Regions from separate parts of the Homo sapiens genome. Here region 2 is reported to be linked to region 1. Evidence: microRNA targets listed by miRTarBase, many of them from high-throughput screens and not tested one by one. Region 1 holds a microRNA gene; the other region holds the end of a gene's coding sequence.
The links. Region 1 holds the annotated microRNA hsa-miR-3150a-3p (CUGGGGAGAUCCUCGAGGUUGG, at 2,416-2,437, opposite strand). A microRNA usually pairs through its seed, bases 2 to 8, with sites in the 3' UTR of a target mRNA and lowers its output. Matches are read on the target gene's strand: a 7mer-m8 pairs with bases 2 to 8, a 7mer-A1 pairs with bases 2 to 7 and ends in A, and an 8mer does both.

Region 1 (5,233 bases):
AGACTGAATTTTCCTGTATGGTCCTAATTTTATTTAATGTATTTTTTTCTTAATAAAGATGATTTTAAGTGTATAACTAAAAATGACATTATTGTATGCTTTTGTAAATTTCATCTGAATGAATGAATTCACATATCTGAAAGTCATTTGTCACGTCTTGTGTCCATGGTTTAGAAACCTGGTGTATTGCTCCATTTTAGAGCACGCTAGAAAAATCAGCAGGAATCTCTGGACTGTTCTGTCATTTGAGCTCTTTCATTTGTCTGTTGACCCACATGAATGGGATCCTTGTGACCCTGGGTTCTGCTTGTCAGCTGTCCAAGTCTGGGCCGTTGTTGACCTACCAACAATCAGTGAGGGATGTGTTTGCTTACCAATTGAGAAATAATGTTTTTCACGTTAGACTCTATTTGAGGGGTGGGGTTGCTGGCTGCCTGATAATCATTCCTGCTTTCTTTGAATGAAATTTTTGAGGTTGTAAAAGAAGGAATTTGGAGTTTGCAAAGCCTAATCATAACATGAGGCCCTTGATCTAAGGGCTCTCCAATGGGCAGTGGCAGGTGGGATCGCTGGAAGGAGGAATCTAAGGACAGGAAACCAGTGAGGAAGTAAATGTAACAGAGAAAATCCACATCTGGGATTAGACAACAGCAGTGAGAGTGGAGAGGAAGAGATGAGTCTGAGAAACAGTGAACAAGGAATCCACAGAACTTGGTGACTAAGTGGAGGGACAGAGAAAAGAGGAGGGGGAAGTCAAAATGGCTAGATGGCTTCTAGTCTGTGACAGAGGCAGAGGAAATGCTCTGCTATTCATAGAAATGGGGAAGTTAGGAGGTAGTGCATAAGGCTGTACAGTTTTAGACATAGGACATTGGAGGAGATGGAAAGTCATCTTCAGGTGGTTAGAAACCCAGGGCCACTTTTGGTTGGTGTTCAGGAAGGGAAGTGCAGAGAGGTGGAAATCTCAGCCACAGGTCAAACACTTCCCTGGCCCCAGATTAAAGACCAATCCAATTAAGCATGAGAGCACACGAGCCACACAAGTCGCACAAGTCAGTAACGAAAAGGACTCCCAGGTGATCTTAAGTCACATAATTAACATATTTTCAGGGCCCTACTTGTATGTGGCCCTGAAAACGTTGAGACTAATCAGCTGGAATATATCCATTTTTTTTTCTCCTTCTTTTTAAAACCTTATTATAGAGAATTTTAAAAATATACAAGAGTAGAAATAATTCTAGAACGAACTCCCATGTTTTCATTACCCAGCCTCAACAACGATCAAATCATAGCCAACCTTGTTCCATCCCAACCCTTACCCACTTCTCCCTGCGTTATTTTGAAGCTAATTCCAGACATAAATATTTCAGTCTGAATTTCTAAAAATAAGGACTCTATCCTTTAAAAATAAGCACAATGCCATTATCATGCCTTAAAAAATTAACTATGGTTTCTTATATCAAATATCAAGTCAGGTTCAAATTTCCACTAAAGTTTTAAGTTTCCATTAAAAGCAGTTGATTTGAATCAGGATTCAAATTAGGACATCAGGTTGGGATTGGTTGGCAGGTTTTAAAGTCTCTTTTACTCTTTGGGTTTCTCCCCTACCCTCTGGAGAGAGCTCCCCACACCGTGGCTTTGCTGACTGCATTCCTTGGGTGGACTTTCACTTGTGCCTCTGTCCTCGACATGTCCTGTAAGCTGGAAGCCGGGATCAGATTCAGATCCATTTTTATTTTAAGTGTTATGCAAAAAGACACCCAGTGAAGGTGTTAGAATGAGCCATGGCAGTGGATGGGGTTCGCAGGACCCCTGCGGAAGGGGGACGTTTAAGGGGCAAGCGGAAAAGGAGACACCTGGAATGGGGGAGGAGGAGCAGCGGGGCGAGGCGGGGGCGGTGCCGCGTGGTCTGCGAGCCCGGATATTCCCTGGGGAGCGCACCTGCGACTTCACCTCCAGTCCCTCCCCGGCTGGGGCAGCGGGGCGCGGGCGCTCGGGAGAGGTGGCGCTGCCTACTCGGCCTCATCTTGCTGAGAATGCGACGGGGCGACAGCTTCCTGTCTTTTCCAGTGGCTTTTGGCATCCCCAGAGGAAAAAACGGGGAGACCCGCTTTGGCCTCAGGAAGCGCAGAAACACTGTCCTGGCTGCGCGCGCAAGGGCGAGAACCTAGGGGACCCGCCTAAAGCGCCGTTGGGGCTGAGCACCGAACTCGCACAGCTCCGGGCAGCGACCCGCGATGCGGCATCCTTCCGTCCGGTCGGAGCCCTCCTAGCCCTCAGCGCGTCTATTCCTAGCTTCGGTCCCCGCAGCCATATAAGCAATGACACCCTCGCCGACTCGCCTGCCAGCTTGGCCGCCTCCCTGCAGAGGGCTGACGCTTCTCCAGAAGTTGTAAGAAAAGGAGGGAAAGCAGGCCAACCTCGAGGATCTCCCCAGCCTTGGCGTTCAGGTGCTGAGGAGATCGTCGAGGTTGGCCTGCTTCCCCTCACTCCTCGGGCCTTGCTCTTCCCCCAGGTGCCCACTGCCCTCCCTGCTGTGTACCACTTTCTTGCTGCCTGTGAAGGTATTTGTCCTCACTCTTGTGCTGCTCCTTCAATGATAGAACTTTGGGACTTTCTCATCCAGCAGCACCAGCCTGAAAAAGCAGTGGCTTGCACCACCACACACATACCTGGTCTCAGGTGGGTGGATCAGGGCAACTTGGCCACTAGTGCCCCAGTAATGCCCATCTGCCCAACCTCAATGCAGGAGCAACAAGTATTTCTCTGTCTTGGAGAGATCTAGAAAAAGGCTGAACATACCACGAGGGTGTTGCTTCAGAAGAAAATGCTGGTCAGGGTTCCAAGCCATCATAGGAACTTGTGAGCTGAGAAACATGGTCAACTCTACTCTCTCTCTCTTCTCTACCTACCCAGGCAGCCACAAATCTCAGTGTCAGTCACTGCTTTGGTTTGACATCTAAGGGCTCTGTTACAAGGGTAACTAAGATGAGTACCAGTAGATGCCCAATGACACTTGTAAACATGAAAGTGTATACCAGTATAAAGGATGCTGCAGCCTCAGCCTTGAAAAGTAAGGCTTTTAGGGAATGAAACAAAGGATAGTCAGGTTCTTAGGGGACAGGGAGGGTTCTGGCATGGGGAGCAGCCCTGGGCAGGTCTGGGGGTGCTGCGAAGTAGGGCACCGCAACATAACGGCCCTGTGTCTTAGGTGGCCAGGAAGGGGAAGGCAGGAGATACAGAAGGAAAGGAAACTAACATTTTATTGAGACAGGCATTGTGCTGGTCCTGAGGTTTATGCGAAGATTAATTTCTGGGGGTGAGAAGGTAAAAAATGATGAGGTGGAAACCAGCATCTTCTGTTACTCCCATCTGTGCAGAGTTAAAGAAGACTTGAAAGAAGGGGATGTGAGTGGCAGGAAAATCCCCAGTGACCGGCCCTGAACCTTCTGCCAGCGCAGCTCACCTCCTCCCCAAATGCCTCCCAATAGGATCTCAGCCCTAAACAAGCACAGGGCGTGGGGTGGTACAGATGATGATGTAGCTGCTTCTGAGATGCCCCTGGGCGCTGCTGGAGCTGAGCCCTGGGACTGGAATGACTTTTGCCCGCTGCCCTCAAAATTCCCACAGGCCACACCGCTACCACCTCTTGGGTAAAGTAGGAGGGACACATCTCCACCACCATCCAAATTGTTACCTAATGAGGAATTTTGCCAGGAACTACTTACAGCCCAATGGAGCCAGGCTGGGTATTTCCAGGACATGAGCCATTTTCTCTGTGCCCACTAAACAGGGTGCAGGTCCCTGAAGCCCTCAGGGAAGCTGCAAAGGTTACTGGGGTCGGCTCTGGGGCAACAGCTGACCTCTTAGCTCCCACTGCAGGCGTAGGAACCTCCAGGACAGCCTGTGGGGGTGGTGAGTCTGCAAAGCTGGCTGGCTAATGAGGGTGCAGTGCTGGTAGTGTCTGCCTTATGCTTTTTTTTTTTTTTTTTTTTCTTTTGGAGACGGAGTCTCGCTCTATCGCCCAGGCTGGAGTGCAGTGGTGAGATCTCGGCTCACTGCAAACTCCACCTCCCAGGTTCACGCCATTCTCCTGCCTCAGCCTCCCGAGTAGCTGGGACTACAGGCGCCCGCCACAATGCCCGGCTAATTTTTTTTTTTTTTGTATTTTTAGTAGAGACGGGTTTTCACCGTGTTAGCCAGGATGGTCTTGATTTCCTGACCTCGTGATCCGCCCACCTCAGCCTCCCAAAGTGCTGGGATTACAGGCTTGAGCCACCGCGCCCGGCCGGTTGCCTTATGCTTTAATATTAATCATATGGTATGAACACATGCAAAGCTAGCTGGTTTTACTGTTTAGGAAAGTAGATTTAATTTCTATGTGATCTGGATTATCACCATTATTATTTCCTTGGTATAGAAATTGCTTTTTACTGCTTGTGTTTTTCTAAAATTATATTCTCCCTCTGACCAAGGCAAGTAATAAAGGGCAGATGACTCGGGGAGGGGAGGGGAATAGGAAAAAAATCATGGGAGATATGCTTCAAAACCAATAGAGAGTTTTTCTGTTTTTAATTTCAGTTGAATTGCAAAGCAAAGACCCATAGAAGTGAACTGTGATACCAGAAATTCTCTGCCCAGCTTGAAGTTGTTGATATATTATAATCCTTATGTGTGACGTTAATGGTTTTAGTATATATTATCTGCCATCTAGCCTGTTTATTTCAAATATAGCTTCTGAATTCATGGATTTTTATGTGATTTTTGTTTTGTTTTATGTATATCTTTTTAATTTCATAATCCAAAGTGGAAAGAAACTCAACACTCATTTTTAGAAGCTCATTCTCTGAAGTTAGAAGAAGTAAAAATGTGTTTACTTTCTTAAATTTGTTTGATAACCTGAAATCTTAAAGCATCCAAGATGGAAAATATCAAATTTCAAAGCTTAATGTTAGCAATATTCCAAAAGATAAAATCTAGTGACCTGGTTTTCTCTGAAAGTGACACAGTATGTATATAAATAGATTAAAATGGCAAACACATATGTACACTTAGTAAGTGCCAGCCACTATTTTCGGCACTTTACAATTATTAACTAACTTAACCTTCATGATAATTCTAGGAAGTAGGCACTATCACTAGGCCATTTTACAGATGAGAAAATGAAGGCACGGAGAGGTTAAATGTAATAACTTGCTAGTGGTCAATCAGTAGGCAGTAGAGGAGCCAGCAT
Region 2 (5,000 bases), not on the chromosome of region 1:
GAACTTTGTGAGCTAAAAATACTGGTAGCTATCATTAAGTCCTCTGAGGCCTTTCTTTTTCTTCCTTTGAGAGGTACTTCATTCATATGATGTTAATGGTCTCTGGACTGAACTCTTCACGGTCTCCTTATAGGGAAGTATTTGTTCCCAGAGCAAAATTTAACCTGTAAGTTTCTTAATGGCAGGTGGCCGTTTGCTGAGTGATTCCTATGCCAGGATATCAATGAAGAATCCAGGGGCTGGTCGCAGGGTGTCACCTGAGTTACTGTTGTTTGGGTTTTCTTCTTCTCATATAGGAAAAATAAAATAATAGTAGCACATCAGAAAGTATGGCAGGGTTTTCCTTGGAGTCTCATGCCTTGTATTAAGGACTGTCTTCAGGGTCATTGGGATGAATATGTCTAGTTTCCAGAGTCACTGCAGTGGTGAGAGTGGTGGTGGGGAATCCTTGTGGTGCCTTAGGTCTGTCTTGGGAGAGGGGAGCAGAGTGTACTGCACCCTGAGGAGAACCCGGATTTCAGGTGTTAAGATCGAGATTTGTTCTTCCACAGACTAAGAGCTGGCTCAGGGCAGGAGCTGGTCTGTATGGTGTGTCCCCAGCCCCAGCACAATGCCTGCCCCCTAATAGGTTTGCAGAGAACATTAATGTCCAATTGGGTGGCCTACATCAAGTTTCAGACGGTGGAAACCCTTTTTGACAAAGCAAAGCAAGCTTAAAGCAGTCTCAGATGTTCAGATCTGTACATATTTCATTCTTTCTATTTTTGATTTTTCTCTAGTGACAAGAAAAGGAAGTTAGAGGCCAAACAAGAACCCAAACAGAGCAAGAAGTTGAAGAACAGAGAGACAAAGAACAAAAAAGATATGAAACTGAAGCGGAAGAAATAGTGAAGAGAAACTCGGGCATCTGTGTTTGATCATGGGAAGATACTCTCACTAACTGAACCCTCTCTGGCTGGACTGTTAAAAGCAACGAGAGGCCCCGGCACACCTGGAAGCTGGCCGCGAATTCGGCCTCTGGGCCTGTGTGTCTGTGAGCTCAACCTGGCTAAAGGCAGAGTCACTCCCAAATGGGTCTCTTTAGAACTTGATGGCTGGGCACTGCCATCTCTAGAATTGCCACGAGTCTCTCTCTTCCTGCCCAGTCCAGGGCCCTCCTTTCCTATAAGTTCATATTTTGCTTTGAGCCAGCTTTTTAGTCTCATTCCCACACATGTGGAAGCCACGTTGCCTCTCGACCGCCTGAGGCCCTTAAGTACATCGCTTTCTGGTGGTGCCCAGGAGGCTGCTGCTGGGCCGCTGGGTCTCTCTTTGTGGACTTGTACCTGGAGCAGGAGGAACTCCAGTCCGTCCCGGCATCCATGGCAGCCCGCGGTTAGGTGCGCCAGGGTTTGCTGATGTTGTCTTGTGCTGTTCCACTCTTGGCTCCAGCAGACCCACTGTCCCAGAAAAGCCTGATCCTGTAGTTTATGTAGAATGCCACATCTGCGTCCTCAAGACCTGTTTCATCCATTTGGGAAAAGATGTTGGGAAAGGCCACTTTGCTCGCAGGGGTGAGGGGAAGGATAGAGAATCTATTTTTAATAAATAACATTCTAGAAAGATCAGCTGCCTGTGAGTGTTCTGAAATCCACGCACCTGGACGTTTCTTCTGGTGGGTCTTGGCTGCCTGGTGGAATTTGGAAGGTGTTGGTATCAAGGTCAAAGGTGAGCAGTGTGTCTAGGGCTTCCCAGCCCAGGAGTCTGCGGGAGAAGTGGCAGGTGGCTATGGTCACCTCGAGGGGCTTGGTGTGGTGGCTGGAAGCCAGCTAGAACTGCCTCATTTCCTTCCCAGCTCCTTCCAGGTCACTTGGTCCCTTCCATTTGTTGGGAACAGAGGTAACCTGGTGGCTTTACACATACTTTGGTATGTTTGTTTAATGGTATCCAGGCTAATGAGTCTGCAGCCCCGATATGTTGTCTAGGTTCAGAGAAGGACAGGGAAGGAAACGGTAACTTCTCAGCCTAAGGGTATTTCATATACAGCTCCTAGGACTCGTCCCCACAGGGAGAAGAGCAGGTTCTGTATGCGACCCTAGGGCTGCTGAGGCTTGTCACCGAGGCTGTCAGGACATGAGCCTAGGGGTCTTTCGTTTCTTGGGACTGAAGTTTCCTGGCCACAGACCTCTGTTAGGTCTGTAGGAAATTTTGCTGGAGGCAGGGAGGGGGCATGAAAATAATTTTTATTTATTTTCTCAGGTGGGTGCCTGAACCTGCCTTTCAAAGAGGGTTTTCTTAGACCGTGGCCAGAAGCAGAGTCACATGCTCAAATGGTCAGAGCTGGATGGGACTGTGCAAGTTGTCCAGGCATATCATCCTACAGGTAAGGAAGCTTTTGTTTAGTGTCTCTACCCTCAAAGTCTCCCCGGCTGGCTCTGCTTTGGGGTGCAAGGTGAGGGCTCTGGAGGTAGACTGCTCTGCCCTGACGCTCACCGTGGCCTTGGGCAGGTTACTTCATCCTACCTGCCCTTCAGGTCCATTTCTGCAAAATTTGAGTGGTAGGAATAGCACCTCCGTCACGGGACTGTGGTGAGAAGTGGGTGGGGTAGAATGGGAAACGTTTAGAACAGTGCCTGGCACATAGCAAGTGCCTCTGGGTTCTGGGCACTCATCAGATCTAACTAGAGGAGCCGCTCAAGTTCAGTTACATGCCAGCTCTAAGAATACTCAATAAGGACTAGCTGTGGTGTTCTTTTGAAAACAGACAGGGTCTTGCTCTGTTGCCCAAGCTGGAGTGCGGTGGCTCAATCATAGCTCATTGCAGCTTTGAACTCTTGGGCTGAAGCCATTCTCCCACCTCAGCCTTCCAAGCAGCTGGGAAGGTGCTCACCACCACACCTGCCTAATTTTAAAAATTATGTACAGATGGAGTCTCAATATGTTGCCCAGGTTGGTCTGGAACTCTGGCCTCAAGTGATCCGCCTGGGCCTCCCAGAGTATAGGGATTAGAGGCATGAGCCACCACACTTGGCCAGGACTGGCCATGTTATAAAACCACAACCTAAGCTAGAAAAGGAGTCTCCCTTGGCCAGCGAAGAGCATGCATTTTGCAGTCAGACTTGTCTGGCTCTGTATAATATCTCTGTATCCTTGGACAAGGCCTCTTTATTTGCAAAGTGTGTGTTCCTAAACACACGCTTGGGTCTTTGCATTTTATGGTCATGATCTTGGGTTCTCCTTCAAACCTGAAAAGGCATGTCTCCCCCACACCTCACCATCTGGCCCCCAGACAGAGTGACATCTGTAAAGCTTGGCTGTCTTAGGAAATGTCACTTGCGAAATGAATTCAGATAGGCCAGCCATGAGTGCTGTCACCAGAAGGGGAAGAGCCTGAAGAAGCCTGAACAAAGAAGGTTACTAAATGGTCACCCCCCATACCCCCTCGCCAGGCGGGGCTAATGCCGGCCTGCTTCAGTGCTTCCACTGCTCATCTGGCCCGGAAGTCCCGGAGGACTCCGGATGACCAGGAGACGGGACACAAAGGGGGCCGCTGAGGCTGGGAGGTGGGGGAGGGGCAGAAATAAGTGACCGTCACCTTGGAAAAATGTAGACTCATTATCTGAGGCCTGTTACAACACCCGCAGCCATTCTGCAGGCCTGGAGGAGGGGGTGGGGTCGGAAGCCCCTTGGGCTGGAATAGACAATTTCAGGGGATTGCCCCTGAGGGGGCATGCCCTTGATTCTACAAACAATTGGTTCCAGTTAAACATCATCTGGATCCTGCAAAGCGGACTTGAAAGGCAGCCTGAAAGGGAGAGGCCGGGGCTTCCTGCTTGGGCTGGTTCCGTTGAGAAAGCTCTAGCCACCTGGTATCTGGCACGGGGACTAATGTGGAAAAGGATAACTGGCCTTCCAGGCCGAGAGCCTAAAGGAAAGCTTCAGGAGAAGATTTGAATGCAGGAAAGAAACCAGACAGCCTCAAAAAGGACAATCTCAGTGTTAGCCCTGTCGGTGCAGGAGCAGACTGGTACCTGCCACCTCTGGAGAGGTGTTTTCTTTGGAGACGGCTAAGGCGCCAGCTTATGCTTGCCTGTGGACCCACTGGAGCCGAGTGAAATCCCTGTAGATGCAACCCATGCTCACAGCACCTGGGTCCTCAAGGGCTCCAGTAAGAGGGTAACTCCCCCAAGCCTGCCTGTGGCTGCTCATAGCAGGCGGAGCAGGGCAGGCCGTGAGCAGTGGCCCGGAATTAGGAGGTCCAGCTGCCTGGGTAAGTGATCATTTCTGTTTGAGTCCTAGCCCCTTGGAAGCATGTCTGCTTTTTTTTGGTAATTATTTTAATTTTAAATGTTTATTCAAAAATGTATTCCTGCTACCCACAGGCTCCAAGGGGCCCGCTCCCTCCTTCCTACCTCCACTTTCTCTCAACCCCCCACTCACCCTCTCAAGAGAGGAAATGGTGGATCCCTCATCTGGAGCCAGAATGCAACTAGATCTTGCTTTCTAGGCTGGGTACGGACCAAGGCATGTCCTGCAGGGATGGGGGAACTTGTGGGGACGCTGGACACAGACCCATGAAGGGCAGCCACTTTGAATGGCAAGTGCTGGGGACGGACAGCCCGCTCCACCACCGTCTTGGGCCACTGCACAGGAAGATGGTGTGGGGGAGTGCGCCCCCTCCTAGTGGCCCCCAGAGGGCACCATGGGTCTGTGCGGCCACAGGTCCCCAGGCTGGGCCTCGAGCTGCCCTGCGCAGCTCCTGCTGGAATTGGGCTTTGCCAGGGACTGGGATCTTTATGTCGTTCCCCTAACGCCTGAGTCACGGCCGGTCACTGACCCACAGCCACTTTGGTTCAGGTTCTCAGTGACCTTAGGAATTTCTATACCTGTTTCAGGCAGGCAGGCAGGCGACTTTTTTTTTGAGAGAGAGTCTTGCTTTGTTGTCCAGGCTGAGGTGCAGGGGTGATCATAGCTCACTGCAGCCTCGAACCCCTGGGCTCTGTGATCCTCCCACCTCAGCC

Region 2: the mRNA of NAT10 is a reported target of hsa-miR-3150a-3p. The part of its 3' UTR that is shown has no 7-base or 8-base seed match.

The regions. Positions count from the first base shown.
Region 1 is chr8:95,070,166-95,075,398 of GRCh38, reverse strand. MIR3150A (microRNA 3150a) reads right to left here and starts at 2,485; the gene lies at 2,406-2,485. It overlaps MIR3150BHG (MIR3150B host gene), which reads left to right and starts at 2,217. Exons shown (of 2, transcript NR_132986.1): 1 at 2,217-2,470. It overlaps MIR3150B (microRNA 3150b), which reads left to right and starts at 2,403; the gene lies at 2,403-2,488. LOC124901980 (a long non-coding RNA gene) reads left to right here and starts at 3,146. Exons shown (of 2, transcript XR_007061013.1): 1 at 3,146-3,653; 2 at 4,582-4,750. It also overlaps a transcript of NDUFAF6 not described here. RefSeq lists a silencer at 1,911-2,010.
Region 2 is chr11:34,145,305-34,150,304 of GRCh38, forward strand. NAT10 (N-acetyltransferase 10) reads left to right here. Exons shown (of 29, transcript NM_024662.3): 29 at 780-1,604. The coding sequence ends at 888. Among named protein-coding and RNA genes, the nearest start is that of NAT10, 42 kb to the left of the region's middle. RefSeq lists enhancers at 137-306, 4,616-5,000.